2 linked regions of the Homo sapiens genome follow. The protein of the gene in region 1 interacts with the protein of each later gene in a pairwise test. Each region holds a gene or a part of one and is shown on either strand. Other genes may lie near its edges.

Evidence for each region.
Region 2: the proteins of GAP43 (region 1) and DRD4 interact in binary tests that used the Homo sapiens proteins (3 or more experiments, as listed by UniProt).

Annotation. Positions count from the first base shown.
Region 1 is NC_000003.12:115,617,700-115,629,531, reverse strand, and holds the start of GAP43 (neuromodulin), read right to left. Parts: upstream 6,023-11,832; 5' UTR 5,843-6,022; coding exon 5,813-5,842; intron 1-5,812. UniProt on the Homo sapiens protein: This protein is associated with nerve growth. It is a major component of the motile 'growth cones' that form the tips of elongating axons. Plays a role in axonal and dendritic filopodia induction.
Region 2 is NC_000011.10:629,251-641,370, reverse strand, and holds DRD4 (D(4) dopamine receptor), read right to left. Parts: upstream 4,103-12,120; 5' UTR 4,067-4,102; coding exon 3,782-4,066; intron 1,939-3,781; coding exon 1,826-1,938; intron 1,724-1,825; coding exon 1,065-1,723; intron 971-1,064; coding exon 768-970; 3' UTR 665-767; downstream 1-664. UniProt on the Homo sapiens protein: Dopamine receptor responsible for neuronal signaling in the mesolimbic system of the brain, an area of the brain that regulates emotion and complex behavior.

The sequences.
Region 1 (11,832 bases):
GCAGGGAAAGTGGGAATATTTCAGGCTGAGAGGGAAGGGTAACATGGGCAGAGAGTGGAGTACAAGCGAAGGCACCAAGGCCTGAAATCTTGGCATGGTGTCATCAGGTAAAAAAAAAAAAAAGAGCAGGGGGGCTGTTGGAATTTGGCACTAGAAAAGCAGGCAAAACTAGATTGTGTCATTGATGCTGAAGAGTTTATATTTTAACAAAGAAAATAACAAAACCCGATTTGCATTTTGTAAAGATAGCTGTGGTGTTATTTGCAAGGTAAACTAAAGAACAATGTGGTGGTAGAACTCCACATAGAAAGTTACTGCTTTTGTCCAGATGAGTAGTCATGAAAAGTCTGTGCCAGGTTATTTATATAAACAGGGTAGAAAAGCAGAGGATTTATTCAATCTTTTAAACAAGAATCAAGGAATCAAAGGATTTAGAAACTGGATATGGGAGTTGAAATAAAATACATTCAGGATTACTCTCAGGTTCCTAGAGCTCTGAGGCTGGATGGACAGTATCAGAGCAATAATTGTAGTGAGGAAGATCAAGTGTGATACACAACAGAAGACACTGAGTTGGGTTTTGTACCTAACAAACTTGTCTCTGAAATGAAGCACTTAGACCAAGATAACTATGGATCAGAAGCTAAAAACAGACATCTGATCTACAGATCTGGAAATCACACAGGTGGCTAAAGATTTGGATGTGGATGACCTGATGAGATCACCTAGGATTAGTGAGTCAAACGAGAAGAGTGGAATGAATGAAGATTATGATCCAGGAGATCATAGATTTGGGGAGGTGGGTGAAGAGAGCAAGAGAAGCCTATAAGGAGACTGAGCAGGGTCTTATCTGAGAGGGAGAATAAGGAGAGCTATTAATATCATGCAGACCCAGTAAGGGGACAGTTTCAGGAACAGGGATTGACAACAACACAAAATGCCAAAGAGACATCAAATAAGATGTAAAATGAAGGGTCACTGGATGTGACACCCTTTCAGAATATGTTTTTCAGTGAAATTATGAAAATCAAAGCCAAATTAAACTAGATGGAATAGTGAATGGGGAGTGAAGAAGAGGAGAAAATGAGGGTGGAGAGTACTTGGAACTTTGTTCTAAAGGGAGAGTGAGACAGAGAACTATAGAGATGGGGACATAGAGTCAGGAGAGAATCTTTTAAGATAGATGAGGCAAAAGCATATTCATAAACTATAAGGAAAGGAGCCAGTGCAGCACAAGAAGATGAAATCTCAAGAAAGAGCAGGGCATGAGGGACTGGGGCTCTGGGGAAAACACGGGGGGAGGAGCAAGAGCACAAGCAGAAGGCTCAACTAAGACTAGAAGGAACTCATCTCTAACAGGGAAAGGTAGACACAGCAGGCACTAGATCATCCTGCAAAACTGGGGCCTCTAAGACAAGCCTCAAATTGCAAAACTTGGGGAGAATAAAAATTTCTTATATTGATCTTTATTTTCACATCAAGTATGTTTAAGCCCTACAAAAATCCTTAAGGTAAGCAAAGTGTTCATTTGTGTCTGGTTTTTGGTTTTTACTCTTCATTCTACAGAAGGAAACTGAAACCCAAGGTGATGTGGTTTATTAAAGCTCACAGTCAGTAAGTGGCCTCCACTAAGGACTCACAGTATAATATTCTTCCCAACACTTCTGAAAATGTTATGAAGATTTAATTACAAAGGTACAAAAGCCACCTGACCACACTTCACAAATTGAAAAGGGAGAATTCCTGTATGAAATCACTTCTTTGGTTTGCAACAGCCACTGCTTGGTTGCCCTAATGCCTTTATTAATACTAATAGGGAAGTGAATAGTTAAATGCTGCTATACCTTCTCTTGAGATGACCTGGTTATGTGCATTCTTTGAACTATTAATAGAGGAAGACTTGTCTTACTTTATCAATACGATTGGTTAATATATATGCTCTATTCTTGCCTGAAAGAACACCAGTACCCTTCCTTATGGGGCCAGGTAAAATTCTGAAGTCTGTGGATTAATTCAGCCCCAGGAATAACACTGGCAATTTCACTATGACAGAGGCAAAGGAGACCCCAAGCCACTCTCCCTCTCGGTGAACAGGAGTACTGCCCTTTAGCTTGAAACATCAAAGGAGGTTTCTGTAGTTTTGCCAGCTCAGCAAGAAAGAAAATTAACTCTGCATTTTCTTATTCCAGTTGCCTCAGCATGGGTTGGTAGGGGAGGGGGTGGGGAAGAGAGTTACACAGACTCTGTCAGCAGGAGAGATCAGGGCTCATTGTGTATGCGCCCTGGCATGGGTTAGAAGGAATTATAGAGTCACCAGAAATGAACACTTTCTAGACTCACCATGAATTTTCTAAGGTTCTCTGCAAGTCCAGATAATTTGGCAAAAAAAAAAAAAAAAGAAAGAAAAAAGAAAGAAAATGCCCTTCAAATATTTTTTCTGTTTAAATTTGGAAACCTGTGGTGAAAATCACTATTAAAAAAAAAAAAAAGAACGAGAAGCTTCAATTATATTAAGTAAAATGGCTCAGCTTAATTAATTCACTAAGTCCCTGAGTGACACTGGGTGTGGCTCAGAGAGATTTGGGAGGAATCCAATTTATCACTAGGAAGAATCGCCTGCACCAAGCAGCAAGGCAGCATCCTTCCACACCTTCCCAACACTGCAAGGAAAGGCAGAGAGGTCGGAATTTTAAACCACAGATCACACTCTCAGAGATAAGATTTATTTGTTGCATGAGGAAAAAAGCAGATATTGGCATGGATGGGGGGCTGGGGAGTAGAGGGACTACTTGCTTGCATGAAATTCTTTACACTTCAATTACAAACTAAAGTCATTATTTTTCAACAAAAGAAACACCTCATAGTTTTCTTGCTTTGTAGACATAAATCACACCTTGCCAAGTTTTTAATCATCTGCAATACACATGGCAATTAAGCTATTTAAAGTAAGCCCCAAGATATTTGAAAATCATAAGGCAATACAATATTAGGGATTATTTTATTTTATTCCTCCTTTGCCCACTCCTTTACCATATTCTCATCTCTACCCCACTCTCATTCTCTTCTTCCTGCTATAATAATCTATAGTGATAACTAATGGCTAATAGAGATCATTTATGCTTTCTTCTCACCCACTGGCAATGTATTCCAACTTAGAAATCCAAGGTTGCTTCTTTATGCCGCTCAAGTGGAAGAGGAAGGAAGTGCAAGCCCTTCAGCCCCCCTCCCACGTTTCTGCTGGATTTTATGGGTGTGGCAGAGCTTAGACCTTTGCAGGTTTTTGCCCTTGTTTTATTCCCTGTTAAGTACTACGATGATGAATAGATGCCAGCAGAAGGATGGGCACCACTGGATTTTGTCATAAATGATACAGAATTTCATCCACAAGCAGGCAACCTGCGTGAGACTTAAGTACTCATGCTACATAAATGCCAGTCAGTGTAGTGTGAGCCCACGCCCTGAATACACCATTTCCTTTAGTCTGATTGAATGGTATCCTAAATACTGGCTAATGTGAATGATACACAACAGTGGTTTATAAGAGACATGACCATTTCACACAGAAGTACACATTTATAAAATGCATGAGCAAAGTAGGACAATTTCTATACCTTTAATTTTCTCTTGAATATAAATGATGCTAAAACACAGAGAGGCATGTGGAAACCACTTACACATGCAACTGTAGCATATGAAGTATGTGGATGCTGTATACATTTACATGCGAATTTCTACAACTCTAAACACAATTTCAGCTTCATCACTTTGCACATCAGAGTGAATGCTTGGGGCTGTTGGTGAGATAGAGCCCCAGGGAAGGCAGCTGTCTTCATTTTGGGAAGGGAATTCCTTTAGCCCTAATTCCTTTTCTAAAAATCATACATGATTTCCTTTATTAAAGGAGATGTATGTATACTTGCATATGTACACATAGGGTGGGAACAAATTATGAACCTGAATATTTTTCTTTCCAAAATTAAAGCTTTTTAAGTGGATGGCTTTGGCTTACTTAGTGCTCCACCTTCCTAAATGTTATTTCCCCAGCTCACCAGTGAAATAACCTCAGGACTTTTCTTTGACAGTGTTCTTAACCCAGACACCTGTATTTATTACATTTATATATTAAAATGAAGGAGGACACAGAGAGAAAATGCCCTGGTTTGATAAAATGAGCCAATGGAAGCATCAATCTCTGTAACCATAGGGCAGTTTCAGGAGATGCTGCAAATACCGCCCCCAACTCAATCCCCCACTATCCGACTTTTTCCCCCAAATAGCCCCACACAATCCAGGATGTCTGCTTATTTATTTATTTATTTATTTATGCCAAATCTCTACTCCCACTGCTCTGACATTCTGCTTCAGTCTCCCATCCTCTTCCTGCTCCTTCTCCTTCATCCTCACTCCCCACCCTTCCTTCCAGGGCGCTGGCTAAATGTGCTAAGCTGGCAGGCTGTTTCTTCTCCACTCTCTTCCACCCCCTTCGGATTCAGGGAGTGTATTACAAATTGCCCAATTTCCAATACCTGCACTGGAAATTATACCCAAATTCCATCTCTTGCACCCCACCCCTAAGGCAATCAGTCTGCGAAGGGCTTCTTTGACCAAGATTGCCCCCACCACACCCCCACCCCCACCACAGTCAAGCATACGCACACACTCACCCGTATCCCACACCCATTTTTCTCTTTAACCTTTGCCAAAATCACTCAAATGCATTCCAACAAATGTTTGAAAGCTTCTTTTGGAGACTGCCATGGCATGGTCGGTTGCTGCGGAATACCACACTCGTCATTCCTTCCCACTCTCACCCCAATCAAGTTTCTAAAATGTCTTTCAAGAAATAAGCGAGCAATTGGAAATGGCTGTAAAACCTGGGCAGTGGGGGAGGGAAGGAGGGGCTCTGATTCTTGCTAATCTTGGATGTGTCCCTCTTCCTGATGAAAATGAGTCACCATACTTATTATCCAGGATGTTAGCCTGTCTCTGGTCACTGACAATCCCAGGAAAGAAGCAAGGGAAGGGGATAAGAGAAAAGACCTGGTTTCCAACAGGTAATACCCGGCTGTCTTTCCCATCCCATCGGAGCTCCTAGGGGCGTGGTCCACCCTCTCCTCCGACCAGCTGGTGCACAATCGGCTGCTGATCTTAGGAAGGGGATTTTCTCCTTCTGCATGGCCAATTTCTCCCCCAGCCCCAGTTGTCTTAGCTTCTCTTAAAAAAAAAAAAAATCTATCAAATCACAGTTTCATTCATTCATTGAAAAATAAATACTAAATAAATAAGACCTGCACGTTTTTCCATAAATACCTGCGCCCCTTCGAAGCTCATGCATGCACGAAATAAGGCATCTTCCGCAGCACATGTGAGAAAATTGTATGACAGAGAGGCAATACTCAGTTCTGAATATTATTTCCTCAACCCTGCTTTTTTGCAAATAATATAAAGAAATGCCTCCCCATCTTGTAGGTAGAGCCCACATCATCTCCCCCACACCCCTTTCTACGTCCACACCCTCAAGACCAGAGACCTCAAATGCTGAGCATTCACTAATAAGAAAAAAAAAAATTATTTCTAGCCAAACAGGCATGTTTTTTCTACCCTCACCCTAATTAGTAGCAGCATTCCAAAACCAGAGCATGAAAGACAGAAAAGAATAAAAGCTGGGATGCAACCATCAGTTACCATATGCTAAGGAAGCGCGAGCACCACGGCCAGAGCAGAAGCAGTAAAAAAATTGTTTGCCTTTACGGGGAAATACTGTACTCGGGTTATTTCACAACAGCAAGAAGTAAAAAATCTTTAGCTCTACCTGTTTGGTTCTTCTCATACAGCACAGCATGGTTGTCTCGTCCCTTGCCTTCTTCCTGCCTTCTCTCCTTTCCTTCTCTCTCTTTCTTATTCCCCCCCTCTCCACCTCTTTTCTGCTCGCTTGCTCACTCGCTCTCTCGCGCTAGCGCGCTCTCTCTCCCTCCCTCCCTCTCTCTCCCTCACACACACCAGGGCAGTTAGCAGCAACTGTAAGGTCCACAGCTATTGCTCATCGCACATGCTCGCTCCCTCTCTCTAGCGCTCTCTCTCTCTCTCCCTCTCTCTCTGGTGCTCTCTCTCCGCTGTCCTCTCTTCCCTCTCTTCTCCTTTTTTCTCCTTCCCCCCAATATCTATCTATCTGTCTTTTTCTTCCCTCTCTCTCCGTCTCTTTCTCGGAATTGTTCTCTAGCCTTCAGTGACTAATCACTTCCCCCAGCCCCTACCCCCATTCTAGACAGTCGCCCCCTCCCAGTCCCCTGCCAGCCTCATGAATATTTAAACACCTCCAATCTGGACCCAATTACCCACCGACTTTTCCACTGCATTGAGAGGGTGATGGGGTGGGGGCAGAGAAGGATATTCCAGTCAATCCAGGAGATATGATAGAGCATGTTTTAGGGAAGAGGGGCTTGAGGAATCCTTGTATTTCTTTAAGAACTCTTTTCCTCTTTTCCTAGTATTATAAAAGCAAAGAACAGCTATTTCTAAAGAGGAATTGTAGTCAGTCCTATACAATATAAGTCATATCTGCCATTACATTTTATGCATAGTTAATAATTGTGGAGGTTAATTTCCCTCAAAAAATGAAATAACATGTAAATATCATACACTGTTTATATATTCTTCTCAGTATACATATAACCTGAAATAAATACAAAGCTTAGATATGCACAAGCATATTTTATATATGTTCCAATATCCTGGAAAAAAATCCACATAAATATATTGCATTTTAAACATTCTAAGCACTTGAGCTCAGAAATAATAAACAATGTTTAAGAATTGGCATCCATATCTAAAATCACATGGTAGTTTTTTGTTTTTTCCTTAATGCACATATACCTGTTTGTAAATTGTGGTTTCTTCTAATTTTACTGAAAAAGCTGAGCACATTCAAACAGGTCTGTGTAATATTGACGGTGATCAAAATGATATTTTACAATTTGGGCATGAGAGATTAAAGTGAATTCATCTGAGATGAGAAGAAACGATAAGTCATGAAGCCTACTTCTTGAATTCCTTCTATGGCCTTTCATAATTTTGGGGGAGGAACATGTGACTCTTAAAGTGTGTATAGCACAATTTTTAGTTATTTATTGTTGAATGAGTTTGAGTGTGTTACTGAAGCTCTTTGCACCTAATTTTCTCATCTTTAAAATGGAGATAATAATGCCAATCTTGACAACATGTTTTGAGGACTAAATGATATAACGCATGCAAAGCACAACAGTCTCTCTGAGTGTATAATAGCTTTACTCCAGAGACTGTACTTTTCTGAAATTCGGGTGACATTTGCAAGTGAATATCTCAAAGAAGTTTTCAAACTATTTCTTGTTGTTCATTAGTGATGACAAGTACCCCTAATTAAACAGCTCATATTCTTCATAGTCCCTCCTAGACCTCCTAGACATAAACCTAGCTAATAAGTGGCAACTAGGCAGCTTATTGTTAGGCATATTTCAGGATCACTGAGCTCAATAAGTGCTTAGTACATTTTAACATAATTTAAGGTATATCTATTTCAAAATGGACTATCTCAGACAGGTACCTGGGAACGATGGTGATGATGATACCCAGGAGGTGATATTTAAAATTAGCCTTAATTATTCCTCAGGAGTCTTCCTGAGAGTGGCCTGCTTCAGATCCGCTGATTTGGTCTTTCATTCTTCTCAGTTTGCTTCCTAGTTTTCATATTTATGATTAAAAAACAGAATTAGTTTCTGAGTTTAATAATTTTTTAATGTTACAAGGAGCCCAGCCGCTTTCAGAACAGCCTTCCGTGATTTTAAGTGATAAAAGAGGACAAAGAGTGGGTGAGAAATGGCTCCTACCAGAAACATTCCGGTTGCAGATTAGGAACACCCTACCTAGCCTGCTAGTGGCTAAAGAGCAATGAAGGGAGGAGGCAGAGAATGTGGGGATTGGGGATGATGGAGAAGAAATTGCACCTTTTGGTGTTTAAACAGGATAACTCCATTGATAAGACCATTTCATTAACTATGTGGCCAAACTTAAAGAGTGGGACTAATTCCTTTCCCTTTCGATGTACTCACCTCAGCCATCCCATTTATATTTTTCCCCCTTTATATATGGGAAGGAACCTTGGAAACAAAGTGGCATAATGAAGTTAAACAAGCTAGGGCTTAAAACTGGGCACAAGCATTGATGAACTTTGTGACTAAATATGTGAAACCACCCAGCTCAGAATCAGCTTCCTCATCAGTTTACATGCATTATTTTATCTAATACTCAAAATGAGGTAGGCACAAGTAGTAATCCCATTTTGATGGGGATGCTAAAGCTAAGGGAAGTTAAGTGCCTTGACTAAGTCACAGAACTAAGAAGTAGTAAAGCTAGGACTCTATGTCTCTTAACAACTAGGCTACATCAATCACCACTTAATAGGCCTCTACTCTTCATTACTTCTAGTCCTTAAGAGATTAAACTACATAGTGGAAGTTTTAATGTTGAAATGAAATCAGCATTCAATGTTGAAATGAAATCAGCAAGATCCATCTTTTAGGCCCAACTCTTACTTCAAGAGCCATGGAGAATAAGCTGATATCTTCATGCAATAGAGAGCCCTCTATGTATTTCTGATGAGATGTCTGCTCCTTCAACTACCCTCAGGTGTCTCAGTGTGTAAGGTCCTCACCATTTTGGATGCCTTCCTCTGGACATACTACATTCTGTCAATGAACCTTTAAAAATTACCTCCCAATTTGGAAGCCTAAGATTCCAAATTTAATTTGAATAACATGGAATCAATTCTAATGCATCTTTTTCTCTAAGCAATGGTGGTTATGGATGGCAAAAGAATAAGGGAGAGACAAGCACAAACTGATATGAGCTTTGCAAAAAATATATAAAAAATAAAATAACCGATGTCCCGATTTTTGCCAAGCAAATACACAATAGACCCACTAATCCTTGTACTTTATAACTAATCCTAGACAATGCATAGGCTTAAGCCCCATGGCTAACCCTTTTACAATTTTAGATTAGCAAATTAACTCATAATACTATCAATTAACTTCTTGACTATAGGTTAGACAATAATAACATTCTAGAAAAAGATGAAGAGTGGTGGAGGCCAGATCCCAGTTCCACGCTCAGATCTCTTTGAACTTTATACTAAAGTGATACTGCTTGTATAATAAAACCAAAAGTCACTGACCTTTACTAAGGGCTCTGTAAAATAGTCTACCATTTTAAGATTATGGCTGGTACTTGAGAGAAGACAATGTCATCAATTCAGGTAGAAAAGATGTTAGTCTTATTTCTCCCTTTTTTAAATTTTATTTTATATTTTATTTTATTCTATTTTATTCTGAGACAGGTTTTCTCTTTGTCGCCCAGGCTGGAGTGCAGTGGTGCAAACATAGCTCACTACAACCTTGAAATCCTAGGCTCAAGCAATCTTCTACCTCAGCCTTCTGAGTACACAAGCCTTCTGTGAACTACAAGTACACGTCACCACTCCTGGCTAATTTTTTTTTTATTTTTTATTTTTGTAGAGACAAGGTCTCATCATGTTGCCTAGACTGGTCTCAAACTGCTGGCTTCAAGCAATCCTCTCACCTCGGCCTCTTCTCTTATTTTTTCAGTGCTTAATCTAAGCCTTTTACTTGCTGCATTAGTTTTCTAGCATTGCCGTAACAAAATAGCACAGACTGGGTGGCCTAAAAAACAGAAATGTAATTTCTGACAGTTCTGAAGTCTGGAAGTCCAAGATCAGGCTGGTGGCTGAGTTGGTTTCCTCTGAGAGTCCTAAAGGAAGGTCCTTTCCAAACCTCTTTCCTGCACTTGCAGCTGGCCGCCCTCTGCTGCCTCTGCACATGGCATGGTTGCCCCCCTGTGTGCATGTGCACCTCTGCTCTCTGTCCCTGTGTATCGTAAGCTCCCCTTCATAAGGACACCAATCAAATTGGATTAGGGCCCACACCTATGGCCTCATTTCACCTTAATTTTCTCTGTAAAGGGTCACATTAAAGATCTCCAAATACAGTCACATCTTAAGGTACTGGGAGTTAGGTTCCAACATATGAATTTGCAAATAAGGGGGACATAATTCAACCCAAACACCTGCTTTCTCTGTCCATACTTGCTGTTTTCATTCACTTAATCTATAGTTTCTATGTTGCAAAAATCATCCTTCCCTCAAGGAAAGTCACACGTACATGAAAAGCAAAGCAAACACTGTGTGCACAAAATATGATTCAATGTCAAATGTGTTTGATAAGAATTCAAAATAGGAAATAAACCACTGTAGACTAAGATGGGCTTTTTGTTTCAGGATTAGGATTAGAATGAATAGAGAAGACATAGGAGTTTTAAAAAAGGGAAAGGGATCACATTAGAAAAGACAAAATGCACAAATAATCACTGCATGATCAAGGGACTGGCAGGATACAGAAGTGGGGGGAGTTGTAAAGGATACTGGTAAGAGACAATGTTGAAAACGTAGGTTAAAGCCAGATTAAGAGGGATCTTCAAGATCAGGCTAAGGGGATATATTAGTTTCCTAGGCCTGCTGTAACAAATTTGGTAGCTTAAAACAACAGAATATTACTTTCTCACATTTCTGAAAACCTGAAGTCTGAAATCAGTTAGCAGGGTTTTGTTCCCTCTGGAGGCTCTGAGGGAGGATACATTCCAGATCTTTCTTTTAGCTTCTGGTGGCTGTGGTCAATCTTTGGTGTTGCTTGTTTTGAAGAAGCATCACTCTAATCTCCGCCTTCGTCTTCATAAGACCTTCCCCATTCTGTGTCCCTGTGTCTTTCCGTTTTCTTCATTCTTTTTTTTTTTTTTTTTTTTTTGAGGCAGAGTCTTGCTCTGTCACTTGGGCTGGAGTGCAATGGCGGGGTCTTGGCTCACTGCAACTTCTGCCTCCCAGGTTCAAGTGATTTTCTTGCCCCAGCCTCCTGAGTAGCTGACACTACAGGCATGTGCCACCACGGCTGGCTAATTTTTTGTATTTTTAGTAGAGGACTAGTTTTGCCATCTTGGCCAGGCTGGTCTCAAACTCCTGACCTCAGATGATCCACCCGCTTCAGCCTCTCAAAGTGCTTGGATTACAGGCATGAACTACTGTGCCTGGCCCCATCTTTCTCTTTCTTAGAAAGACATCTGTCATCAAATTTAGGGCCCTCCCTAAATCCAAGATGATCTTATCTTGAGATCCTCAACTTCATTACAAATTACACCTGCAAAGACTTTTTTTCCAAGAAAGTTCACATTCAGTGGTACCAGGAATTAGGACTTGGACATAGCTTTTTGGGAGACGCAAGTCACCCCACTACAAGGGATTAGACCTAAGATTTGTGGATGGGGACATTTTAAAGAATGCCTGTGGTAACATTGTGTAGTATGAAATGGTGAGAAAGATATACTGGGGTCCTGTGAGAGAAACATATATCTGCGAGGAATCATGGAAGAAAAAGTGAACTGTCACCTGTTAAGTACCTAATATGTTCCATATACCACATATTTTGTGCTTTACATAGTTTGTTTCTTTTATCTCACAGGAGAATATCTAGGAGGAAGAGAAGAATGGAAGAACCAAAAGTTGTACAGAGATTGAACCTAGACAGCCTGGAAAATGAGAATTATAAAAGTCAGAAAGGGACCTGGTTTTGTGAGAAAGGTGATGAGTCAAGCTTGAAAGTGTTCATTTTATGAAAGCATTGACGTGTTCAAGAGCAATACAGGATCAGATGGTAAGAAACAAGAGTCAGAATTGTCTTTCTATGGGTCATTGTTGGAGCCATCAAAGGGAATTCATTTTGTGAGCTACAGTGT
Region 2 (12,120 bases), on another chromosome or scaffold:
TGCCCAGCCCCTGGCCCCGCTGCCGCCTCCCTGCTCCCACCCCTTGGCCCAGCCACATTGGTGGACGCTGGGCAGAGGTTGGCTGGGCACCAGGGGTGACTGAGCACGGAGCTCCCTCCAGGGAAGCCACTTGGTGGGGCCCCACCCATCACCACAGGCCCCTTGCTGTGGGGCTTGGGGCATCCTCTGGCCAGGGACTGGCAGGAAGCTAGGCTCTGGCCTCAAGGCAGCTTCTAAAATGACAGGTTGGGCTCCCCTGCCGGGGTCTGCTGGGGCAGCATGAGCCTGGAGCCCCCTGTGCCTGGTTCTCAGAGGTGGGAGTTGGCCCGGGCAGGGCCTGGCGGCTGACAGCCCCCCACCCCGCCTCTCCCCATTTGTTTCTTCCCATCGGAACTGGGCTTCCCCAGGAGACACCTTGCCCTGCTGGGTGCTGCTTCCTCTCCCCTGCAGAGAGGGGAAGCTGGGCCCCAGCGCTGCGGAACTGAGTGGCTCTCGGGGGCCCCTTCCCCCCTCACCCTGAGCAGGCGGCCGGCTTGGTGGGGTCTGCTCTGTGGGCTTCCTTGGCGGGGAGAAAGAGGTTAACTGGCTGGGGGGCCTGGGGCCACTGAGGCAGAAACCCCTCTTCCCCACTCCCCATCAGCCCCCAGGAGCCTTCACAGCTGAGTTTGGGAAGGAATTTGTTTAATTAACGTACAAAAGCGCCCTCCCCATCTCCTTGGTCCCTGAGGCCTGGCCATCAGGCCGGGGGGCGTCCGGGGGTGCCCGGCTCAGCAGCAGGCACGCAGGGCCTTGCGGAAGACGTTGCGGAACTCGGCGTTGAAGACAGTGTAGATGACGGGGTTGAGGGCGCTGTTGACGTAGCCCAGCCAGGTGACGGCGCTGACCAGCCGCGGGGGCACGGAGCAGGCAGGACACAGCGCCTGCGTGATGTGCACCACGAAGAAGGGCGTCCAGCACAGCAGGAAGGCCCCTGGGGGCGCCGAGAGCCGCGTTAGCGCCCCCCGCCCAGCCGGCCTCGTACCCCCCCCCTCCTCTCCTCCCCGCCCCTCAGGACAGGAACCCACCGACCACCACCGGCAGGACCCTCATGGCCTTGCGCTCCCGGCCGGTGATCTTGGCACGCCGCCTCCTGCGGGTCTGCGGTGGAGTCTGGGGTGGGAGCGCGGCGGCTCTGACGGCGTCGGGGGGAGCACAGTTGGAGCCGCAGGGGTCCGGGGGGAGGCCGGGCGCGGGGGGCGCACAGTCGGGGCCGCAGGGGTCCTGGGGGAGGCTGGGCGCGGCGGGCGCACAGTCGGGGCCGCAGGGACCCCGGGGAAGGCCGGGCGCGGGGGGCGCACAGTCGGGGCCGCAGGGGTCCTGGGGGAGGCGGGGCGCGGGTGGCGTGGGGGAAGGCGGGCCAGGGCCGCTGGGTCGGCGGGGCGCGCGGCCGTGCAGCTTGGCGCGACGTGCCACCTCCCAGCGCTGCAGGCCGCGGAACGTGGCCCAGTAGAGCAGCAGCATGAGCGGGCAGGGTAGGAAGAAGGAGCACACGGACGAGTAGACCACGTAGTCGCGGTCCTCCAGGCGGCACACGGCGGGGTCGCGGCCGCGCACGTCGTTGAGGCCGCACAGTACGGGCGCCGCCACCGCCGCGGACAGCAGCCACGTGGCGCCGATGAGCAGCAGCTGCCGGCGGCTCCCACCCTGCCGGTTGTAGCGCAGCGGCACGGCCACGGCCACGAACCTGCGGGGAGCGCCGAGGGGGCGCCGGACAGCGCACAGGCCGCGGTGAGGGCGGCGGGCGGGGCGCGGGGGCGCCGGGGCGCGGGCGGGGAGGGCGGCGCACCTGTCCACGCTGATGGCGCACAGGTTGAAGATGGAGGCGGTGCACAGCATGACGTCCATGGCCATGAGGGCGTCGCACAGGCGGGGGCTCAGCAGCCACGCGCCACCCTGGACCTGCGCGGCGACACCACAGGCCCTGAGGTTTCCCAGCCACCGCGGGCCCTTGTGACCCGCCCCCACTCTTATGGGTAGTTCCAGGGCTGAATACGGAGAAGGGGGCCCGGCTGTGAGCCAGAGGCCAGAGGACCGGGCAGGGAAACACCCCTTCCCCACGCAGATCTCCCTTTGTTTTGAGTTAGGGTCTCGCTGTGTCACCGCGGCTGGAGTGCTGTGGCTCCATCATGGCTCACTGTAGCCTGGAATTCCTGAGCTCAAGCGATCCTCCCACCTCAGTCTCCAGAGTAGCTGGGATTACAGCCGCGCGCCACCACCCCCGGCTGATTTGTTTTTCTTTTTGTTTTTTGAGACGGAGTTTCGCTCTTGTTGCCCAGGCTGGAGTGCAGTGGTGAGATCTCAACTCACTGCAACCTCCGCCTCCCAGGTTTAAGCGATTCTGCCGCCTCAGCTCCCCCGAATAGCTGGGACAACAGCCGCAGCCACCACCCCCGGCTGATATTTTAAAATTTTTTGTAGAGACCAGGCCTGGTATGTTTCCCAGGCTGGTCTCAAACTATCCTCCTGCCTTTGCCTCCCAAAGTCCTGGGATTACAGGCGTGAATCACGGCTTCTGGCCTTGGTCTCCCTTTTGTTACAAACATGAGAACGGCCTGGGGAATTCCCTGGGGGCGGGCCTGATATCATCGGGCTCAAAGGGAGCCCCTCCCCAGCCTGGGGTAGGCAGGGTCCCCGCTGGGCCTAGAAGCGAAGCTGGCTGCTCTGTTGGCTAAGTTCTCTGTGGGAGACTCGGGCACGTTAATTCATTTCTGTTTCTTCATCTGTAAGACAAGGGTGATGATAGTATCCACATCATAATTGTCTTGAAGATAAATTATAATTAAAAATATGAAGACCGTGCCCAGTGCCCAGCGTAGGACTCCACGTGGAGTGACTCTCTCCAAGGGCAAAGGAGCAGGCAGCCCCTCTAATCCTTCCCGCCGATTTGGGGAGATTAGGAGCTTAAACGTCGTCACTGTGACGTCTGCGGCTCGAAAGGAGCACAGGTCACGCGTGTCCCGTGCTGCTGGTCTCTGCCCCAGCCGCCTGGATTCACTGTGTCCATCAAGGGGAAACCTCGAGTCCCCCTCCCCCACAGTCGGGGACACCGCGTCTCCAGCTCAGCCCTAAGCTGCTTTTCTCTGGCCGCAGAGGGGCTGGCACCAAGGCCGACCCACTCGAGGGCCAGACCTGGTGTGGAGTGTGGGCTCCATCCCCCAATTCCCCCTCAGGCTTCCCCCCAGGGTTCTCAGCAGGGGCCTGGTCCCCACACACCCTCCCCTCCCCTGGGTTTTGTCCAGCCCAGGTCTCCCCTGCGAGCTGTGAGCCTCCTTCTGGGGGTGTGCCAGCATCTGCACTAGGTGTGTGTGGTGGGCAGTGGCTGTGGCAGTGTGTGTGTGTGTGTGTCCCACGGCAGCCAGGGGGCTGAGCCTGCATCTGCCTGTCTGTCCAGCTGGCTGCCCTGGAGGTGAAATCCAGCTACGGAGGGGACTGGGCTTGACAAAGTCGCCTGTTTCCGGGGTCCCTGGATAGAAGGACGGGCATCTCCTGGATAACAGACGCCAAGACAGACGGGGAAGGAGAAGAGGAACGAGGGTCGGGGGACAGACAGCGCAGCGGGTGGAAGGTCGCGAGGTGGCGGCGGTGGGTGTATCGCCGAGGGACAAGGCGCAGCGCCCCTGCCGCCGCCCCAGCTGGAAGCTCCGCACCAGAAAGGGGCCGGGTCGCGCCGGGTCCTCCGTAGGGACAGGGACGGGGAACCGAGGAGCAGGTGAGGATGCTCGTGCGGCCGGACGCGGCTCACCTCGGAGTAGACGAAGAGCGGCAGCACCAGGAGAGCGAGGAGGAGGTCGGCGGCCGCCAGGCTCACGATGAAGGAGTTGGTGGGCGTCTGCAGGGCGCGCTCGGTGGCCACGCTCACGCACACGAGCGAGTTCCCCGCGAGCACCGCGCCGATGAGCAGCACGCCCCCCACCAGCGCCGCCGCGCCCTGCCCAGCCAGCCCCGCAGATGCCCCCGCAGATGCCCCCGCGGCCGGCCCGCGCCCAGCCAGCAGCCCGTCCGCGTCCGCGGTGCTGCGGTTCCCCATGGCGCGCCCGGGCGGGCGCTGAGCACCGCGGACAACGCCGGGTCGCAAGCCGGGGAGTCCCTCCCCTCGGGCACGCCCCGGCCGGACCCTGGTCCCGCCCCCGACCCGCCCCGGCTCAGGGGGGCCCCCGCGGCGCTCCACCGTGAGCCCAGTATTTGCTCATCTTGGAATTTTGCGCAGGGAGAGACGGGCACGTGGACGAATGCGGCGGCCCAAAGAGACGGGAATGAAGCGAGGTGGTGGCCACGGGCAGGCCAGCATCGCCCGGCGCCGCGCGGGGTCCGCGACCCGAGAAACCGACAAGGATGGAGGGGCGGCCAGACCAGGCCCTGAAGCGCGCGGGCATCGACGCCAGCGCCATCCTACCCGGCCCGTGCGTGCGTCCCGGCCCTCGGGCGCTCACCCTAGTCCACCTGGTATCTGGCAAAACCTCCCTCCCAGGCCCGTTCCGCCAGACGCAGAAAGACCTGAGCTCAGGCTCTGCCCGCCTCCCCCGCGGACTCGCCTCGACCTCGTGCGCACCCTCCACGCCCGCTCCCCCTGCCCCCGACTCCGCGCCCGACTCAACCGCCGACGCCTAGCTCATCCCGCCGCCCCCCCCCCGCAGCCTCTGGCCCTCAGCCCCCGCGACCACCACGGTCAGCCGCGGCCCCACCCGTTGCACAGTTGATCCTCGCGTGGCCGCCTCCGAAACTGGGCGGACAGCTGAGCGGTCGACCCCGCTCCCTCCTCCATTCCCTCCGGCCCAAGACCGTGAGCTAGGTAGGCGCCCCTCTGACCCTGGGCAGGGGGTCCCGGGACCGGACAGTAGGTTCGGCTCGCGAGGAGGCCAGGAGAAAGACACGACAGGCCGGGGTAGGTTCCAAACGTGCAGAAGAGAAAGTGCTTGCAAAGCGCAGCAGAGAATTCTATGGACTCTTCACCAAAGAGGGGTGACCTGTGACCTGAGAGGTATTTTCTGTAGTCTGTCACTAAGGGGCCTAGAAGACACTAAAAGGGGGCACCACTCTGTGGGACCCCAGGCGGCGCACATCCTGATGCTCTAGTCTGTTTCTGGGAGGCCTGGAGTGGAGGGGCTGTGCCAGGAATTGAGGCCCCTGACCTCGAAGGTCTGGAGGACACGGGCTAGACGGAGGCGCTGACAGGGCGTGCGTTAAAGGGAGAAATGAGGACTCTGAGAAGGAGCAGGCACCGTGAGCCTCACAGGACAAGGTCACGGGGCTGCGGGGGAAGGGCCTGCACCAGGGACAGGTGTGCACAGGCATCAGGTGCGGCCGCAGCCAGGCTCAGTCCCTCTTGTGCAGATCAGTCTGCTGCCCTTGTGAACCCTTGAGCAAAAGAAGTCACCACAGGAGAGACCACCAGGGACAGGTGTGCACAGGCATCAGGTGCGGCCGCAGCCAGGCTCAGTCCCTCTTGTGCAGATCAGTCTGCTGCCCTTGTGAACCCTTGAGCAAAAGAAGTCACCACAGGAGAGACTGGGACAGTGGAAGTTTCTTCTCTCCCAGGATGGAACCGGGGAGGGTGGCCCTGGGGTCTCCGGCTGGGCGCCAAACGGCGAGTCCAGCCCAGCCTCTGGTCGGCTTAGAGTTCCTTCAAGTAGCCCCCAAGATGTCTGCGACCACCAAGAGTGAAAACCAAGCTAGGCGGAGAAAGGATGTGTGCAGCACACATCTCTGACACACAGATCCAGAAACAATGGAAACAATGAGAAAAGACAGACAACCCCAATTTGTTTTTTTTTTTTTTTTTTTTTTGAGATGGAGTTTCACTCTTATCACCCAGGCTGGAGTGCAGCAGCACAATCTTGGCTCACTGCAACCTCCGTCTCCCGGGTTCAAGCGATTCTCCTGCCTCAGCCTTCTGAGTAGCTGGGATTATAGGCGCCCGCCACCACGCCCGGCTAATTTTTTTGTATTTTTAGTAGAGACACGGTTTCATCATATTGGCCAGGCTGGTCTCGAACTCCTGACCTCAGGTGATCCACCTGCCTCAGCTTCCTAAAGTGCTGGGATTACAGCTGTGAGCCACTGCCCCCAGCCTCCACTAAACTTCTGTTGTTTATCTGAAAATCAAATGTAACTGGATGTGATCACATCTTACTGCAATCATGGCTCACTGCAGCCTCAATCTCCTGGGCTCAAGTGATCCTCTGGCCTCAGCCTCCTGTACAACTGAGACTACAGATGCGTGGTGCCACACCCAGCTAATTTTCTTATTTTTTGTAGAGACGGGGTCTCGCCATGTTAGCCCAGCCGGTCTCAAACTCCTGGGCTCAAATGATCCTCCCACTTCAGCCTCTCAAAGTGCTGTGATTACAGGCATGAGCCATACAGCCAGCCTAAACAATTTTTAATGAGGACCTCCACTCATACCTTACACATTAAAAAATTAACTCAAATATGCTGTCAGGAGAATCAAAAGACACAGACCAGGAAACGACATTTGCAAATGGCCACGTCTGGCAATGTTTCTTCCATTTTAGTGTAGTAGGACGTCGTTGATTTTCCTGATGGCTACTCATGTTTGACCACTTTTCCCATGTGCCTGTTAACTGTCAGCATGCCCTCTTCTGGAATGTGCCTGTTAAAAATCTTTGCTTTTGTTAAAAATTGGGTTGTCTACGCCAGGCGCAGTGGCTCACACCTGTAATCCCAGCACGTTGGGAGGCCGAGGCAGGTGGATCACCAGGTCAGGAGTTCAAGACCAGCCTGGCCAACATAGTGAAACCCCATCTCTACTAAAAATACAAATAATTGGCCAGGCGTGGTGACTCACGCCTGTAATCCCAGCACTTTGGGAGGCCGAGGCAGGCAGATCACAGGGTCAGGAGATCGAGACCATCCTGGCTAACACGGTGAAACCCTGTCTCTACTAAAAAATACAAAAAAATCAGCCGGGCGTGGTGGCGGGCACCTGTAATCCCAGCTACTGAGGAGGCTGAGGCAGGAGAATGGCATGAACCCGGGAGGCGGAGATTGCAGTGAGCCAAGATTGTGCCACTGCGCTCCAGCCTGGGTGACAGAGCAAGACTCCGTCTCAAAAAAAAAAAGCCGGGCGTGGTGGTGTGCACCTGTAATCCCAGCTGCTTGGCAGGCTGAGGAAGGAGAATCACTTGAACCCAGGAGGCAGAGGTTGCGGTGAGCGGAGATCACGTCATTGCACTCTGGCCTGGGAAACAGAGCAAGACTCTGTGTCAAAAAATAAATAAATAGGCTGGGCGAGGTGGCTCATGCCTGTAATCCCAGCACTTTGGGAGGCCGAGGCAGGCAGATCACGAAGTCAGGAAATCGAGACCATCCTGGCTAACACAGTGAAACCCTGTCTCTACTAAAAATACAAAAAATTAGCCAGGCGTGGTGGCGGGCACCTGTAGTCCCAGCTACTCGGGAGGCTGAGGCAAGGGAATGGCGTGAACCCGGGAGGCAGAGCTTGCAGTGAGCCAAGATCGCACCACTGCACTCCAGCGTGGGCGACAGAGCGAGACTCCGTCTCAAAATAAATAAATAAATAAATAAATAAATAAATAAATAATAAATTAAAATTAAAAAAGAAACAAATTTTTTTTAAAAATTAGCAATCATATATCCAGCAAATGGCTTGTATACAAAAAAGATTAATAATTCTCAAAACTCAACAGTAATGATATCACAAAAAGAAAATTCCAAATGAGTATCCTTTATGAATATAGATGCAAAAGTTCTCGAAAAAATATGAGCAAACACAGTCCCTTTTAAAGTGCTGCCTGCCAGAAAAGCAGCATTTTTTTTTTTTTTTTGAGATGGAGTCTCACTCTGTCACCCAGGCTGGAGTGCAGTGGTGTGATCTCGGCTCACCACAACCTCTGCCTCCCGGGTTCACGCTATTCTCCTGCCTCAGCCTCCTGAACAGCTGGGACTACAGGCACGTGCCACCATGCCCAGCTAATTTTGGTATTTTTAGTAGAGACAGGGTTTCACTCTGTTGGCCAGACTGGTCTCAAACTCCTGACCTCATGATCCGCCCACTTTGGCCTCCCAAAGTGCTGGGGTTACAGGCGTGAGCCAGTGCCTGGCCGAAAAACAGCATTTTTAAAAGGATTATGTACCATAACCCAGTGGGATTTATCCCAGGAATGCAAGGGTGAACGAACAGACGAAATTCAATGTCATACACCACATTAACAGAATGAAGAAAAACCCACGCGATCATCCCAACTGATGCAGAAAAAACCATTTCATAAAATTCAAAACCCTTTCATGATAATAAGACTCAATAAACTAGGAATAGAAACAAACTTCATCAGGCCGGGCGCCGTGACTCATGCCTGTAATCCCAGCACTTCGGAAGGCCGAGGCGGGTGGATCACTTGAGATCAGGAGTTCAAGACCAGATGCCCAACATGTTGAAATCCCATCTCCACTAAAAATACAAAAATTAAAATTAGCTGGGCATGGTGGCGCACGCCTACAGTCCCAGCTACTCAGGAGGCTGAGACACGAGAATTACGTGAATCCAGGAGGTGGAGGCTGCAGTGAGACGAGATCGCACCACTGCACTCCACCCTGAATGACAGAGGGGGACTGTCTCAAACAAACAAACAAAATACAAACACAGCTAACATCATACTCAATGGTGAGAAACAAAAAGCCTTTGAAAGAGACAAGGATGCCCACTGCTGCTGCTTCTGTTCAACATTGTTCTGGACATTCTAGCAAGAGCATTACTCAAGAAAAAGAAATTAAAGGTATCCAAAATTGGAAAAGAAAACTATTTCTACTTGCAGATGACATGGTCTTATGTATAGAAGATCCTCCACAACAGGCCAGGCTTGGTGGCTCAAGCCTGTAATCCCAGCACTTTGGGAGGCTGAGGCGGGCGGATCTCAAGGTCAGGAGATCGAGACCATCCTGGCTAACATGGTGAAACCCCGTCTCTACTAAAATTACAAAAAATTAGCCGGGCGTGGTGGCGGGCACCTGTAGTCCCAGCTACTCAGGAGGCTGAGGCAGGAGAATGGCGTGACCCTGGGAGGCGGGGCTTGCAGTGAGCCAAGATCGTGCCACTGCACTCCAGCCTGGGCAACAGACCAAGACTCTGTCTCAAAAAAAAAAAAAAAAGAAAGACACCCCATCTCTACTAAAAATACAAACATTAGCTGGGTGTGGTGGCGTGAGCCTATAGTCACAGCTTTTTGGGAATCTGAGGTGGGAGGATCCTTTGAGTCCAGGAGGTTGAGGCCGCAGTGAGCTGTGATTGAGCCAACATATTCCAAGCTGGGCAACAAAGTGAGACCCTGTCTCAAAATAAAATAAATAATGAAAATGAGTAAAGGACTTGAATAGACATTTCTTCAAAGAAGATACCCAAATGGCCGGGTTCAGTGGCTCACGCCTGTAATCCCAGCACTTTGGGAGGCCGAGGCAGGCGGATCCCTTGAGGTCAGGAGTTCGAGAACAGTCTGGCCAACATGGTGAAACCCCGTCTCTACTACAAATACAAAAATTAGCTGGGTATGCTGGCGGGCGCCCATAATCCCAGCTACTTGGGAGGCGGAGGTGGGACAATCGCTTGATCCCGGGAGGCAGAGGTTACAGTGAGCCAAGAACACGCCACTGCACTCCAGCCTGGGCAACAGTGCGAGACTCTGTCTTAAAAAAAATATGGCTGGGCACGGTGCCTCACATCTGTAATCCCAGCACTTTGGGAGGCCGAGGTGGGCGGATCATGAGGTCAGGAGATGGAGACCATCCTGGCTAACATGGTGAAACCCCGTCTTTACTAAAAATACAAAAAAATTAGCCAGGCATGGTGGCGGGCACCTGTAGTCCCAGCTACTCAGGAGGCTGAGGCAGGAGAATCGCCTGAACCTGGGAGGTGGAGGTTGCAATGAGCCGAGATCGCACCATTGCACTCCAGTCTGGGTGACAGAGCGAGACTCCGTCCCCAAAACAAACAAACAAACAAAAAATATACATATGTCACACACAAATGGCCACAAAGCACTTGAAAAGATGCTCAACCTCATTAGTCACTGGGGAAATGCAAATCAAAACCACAGTAAGATACCATTCCATATCCATTAGGATGGCCATGGTAGTAAATAAATAAATAAATAAATAAATAAAAATACCAAGTGTTAAGGATGAGGAGACATTCACTGCTTTTGGGAATATAAAATGGTCACTGTGAGAAGAAGTCCAGCAGTTCCTCAACAAGTTTCACGTAGAGTTGCCATATGACTCAGTGGGTATGTTACATACCCAAAAGAAGTGAAGACAGGTGTTCAAATAAAAGCTTGTATGTAAATGTTCACAGCGGCACTATTCACAATATACAAAAGGGGCCGGGCATGGTGGCTCACGCCTGTAATCTCAGCACTTTGGGAGACCGAGGTGGGCAGATTGCTTGAGGCCAGAAGTTCAAGACCAGCCTGGCCAACATGGTGAAACCCCATCTCCACTGAAAATACACAAAGTACTGGCCGGGCACAGTGGCTCATGCCTGTAACCCTAGCACTTTGGGAGGCCGAGGCGGGTGGATCACCTGAGACCTGGAGTTGGAGACCAGCCTGGCCAACAGGGTTAAACCCCGTCTCTACTAAAAATACAAAAATTAGCCGGGCGTGGCAGGTGCCTGTAATCCCAGCTACTTGGGAGGCTGAGGCAGGAGAATAGCTTGAACCCGGGAGGCGGAGGTTGCAGTGAGCTGAGATCAGGTCAGTGCACTCCAGCCTGGGTGACAGAGTGAGAGTCCGTCTCTAAAGTAAATAAATAAATAAATATTTTTTAAAAATACAAAAATTAGGGGGTGTGGTGGTGCATGCCTGTAGTCCCACTACTTAGGAGGCTGAGGCAGGGGAATCACTTAAACCTGGTAGGCGGAGGTTGCAGTGAGCGGAGATCATATACTGCACTCCAGCCTGGGCAACAGAACGAGATTCTGTCTCAAGCAGACAAACAAACACAATATATACAAGGTAGAAATAAACCAAACGTCCTCAGCAGGTGAATGGATGAACCAAATGCAGTGTGATTTTTCCATTAAAATGAATGAAATTCTGGGGCCAGGCGCGGTGGCTCCTGCGTGTAATCCCAGCACTTTGGGAGGCTGAGGCGGGCGGATCACCTGAGGTCAGGAGTTCAAGACCAGCCTGACCAATATGGCAAAACCCTGCCTCCATGAAAAGTACACAATTAGCTGGGCATGGTGGTGCTGTAATCCCAGCAACTCCAGAGGCTGAGGCAGGAGAATTGCTTGAACCCAGAAGGCGGAAGTTGCAGTGGGCCAAGATCGCGCCATTGCACTCCAGTCTGGGCAACAAGAGTGAAACTCCATCTCAAAACAAATAAATAAAAATAAATAAATAAATAAAAATAGTGACCAGGGTCTTGCTATGTTTCCCAGGCTGGTCTCGAACTCCTGGCCTCAAACCATCCTCCTGCCTCACCGTCTCAAGTAGCCGAGACCACAGGCATGTACCACCATGCCCAGCTTTTAGGATTTTATTGGTATGAAATACCCAGAACAGGCAGATCCACAGAGACAGAAAGTAAATTCATTGTTACTCAGGAGCTGAAGGGATGGGGGAAGGGGAGGTAAATGCTTTATGGATTTGAGATTTTCCATCTGGGGAGTAAAAAGTTCTGGAACTAAACAGCGGTGCTGGTTGTATAATTCCGTGACCGTACTAAGTATCACTTCATACTTTAAAATGGCTAAAATGGTAAGTTTCATGTTATGCATGTTTTCCCACAATAAAAAAAAAAACAAAACTCAGCAGTAGAGAACAATTTAAAAACGGGCAAGAGATGTGAAGATACATTTAACCCACGACAACATGCAAATGGAAACAAGCACCTGGAAAGAGGTTCGGAATCACCCGCCACTGGGGAAATGCAACTAAGACCACAAGGAGGTGTTGCCGCAGAGAGAATGGCTGAAGGTTAAAAATAGCGACTGCAGGGATGTTGACAGTGTGCAGAGAAAGTGAGGCCGGGCGCTGTGGCTCACGCCTGTAATCCCAGTGCTTTGGAAGGCCGAGGCAGGTGGATCACTTGAGGTCAGGAGTTTCA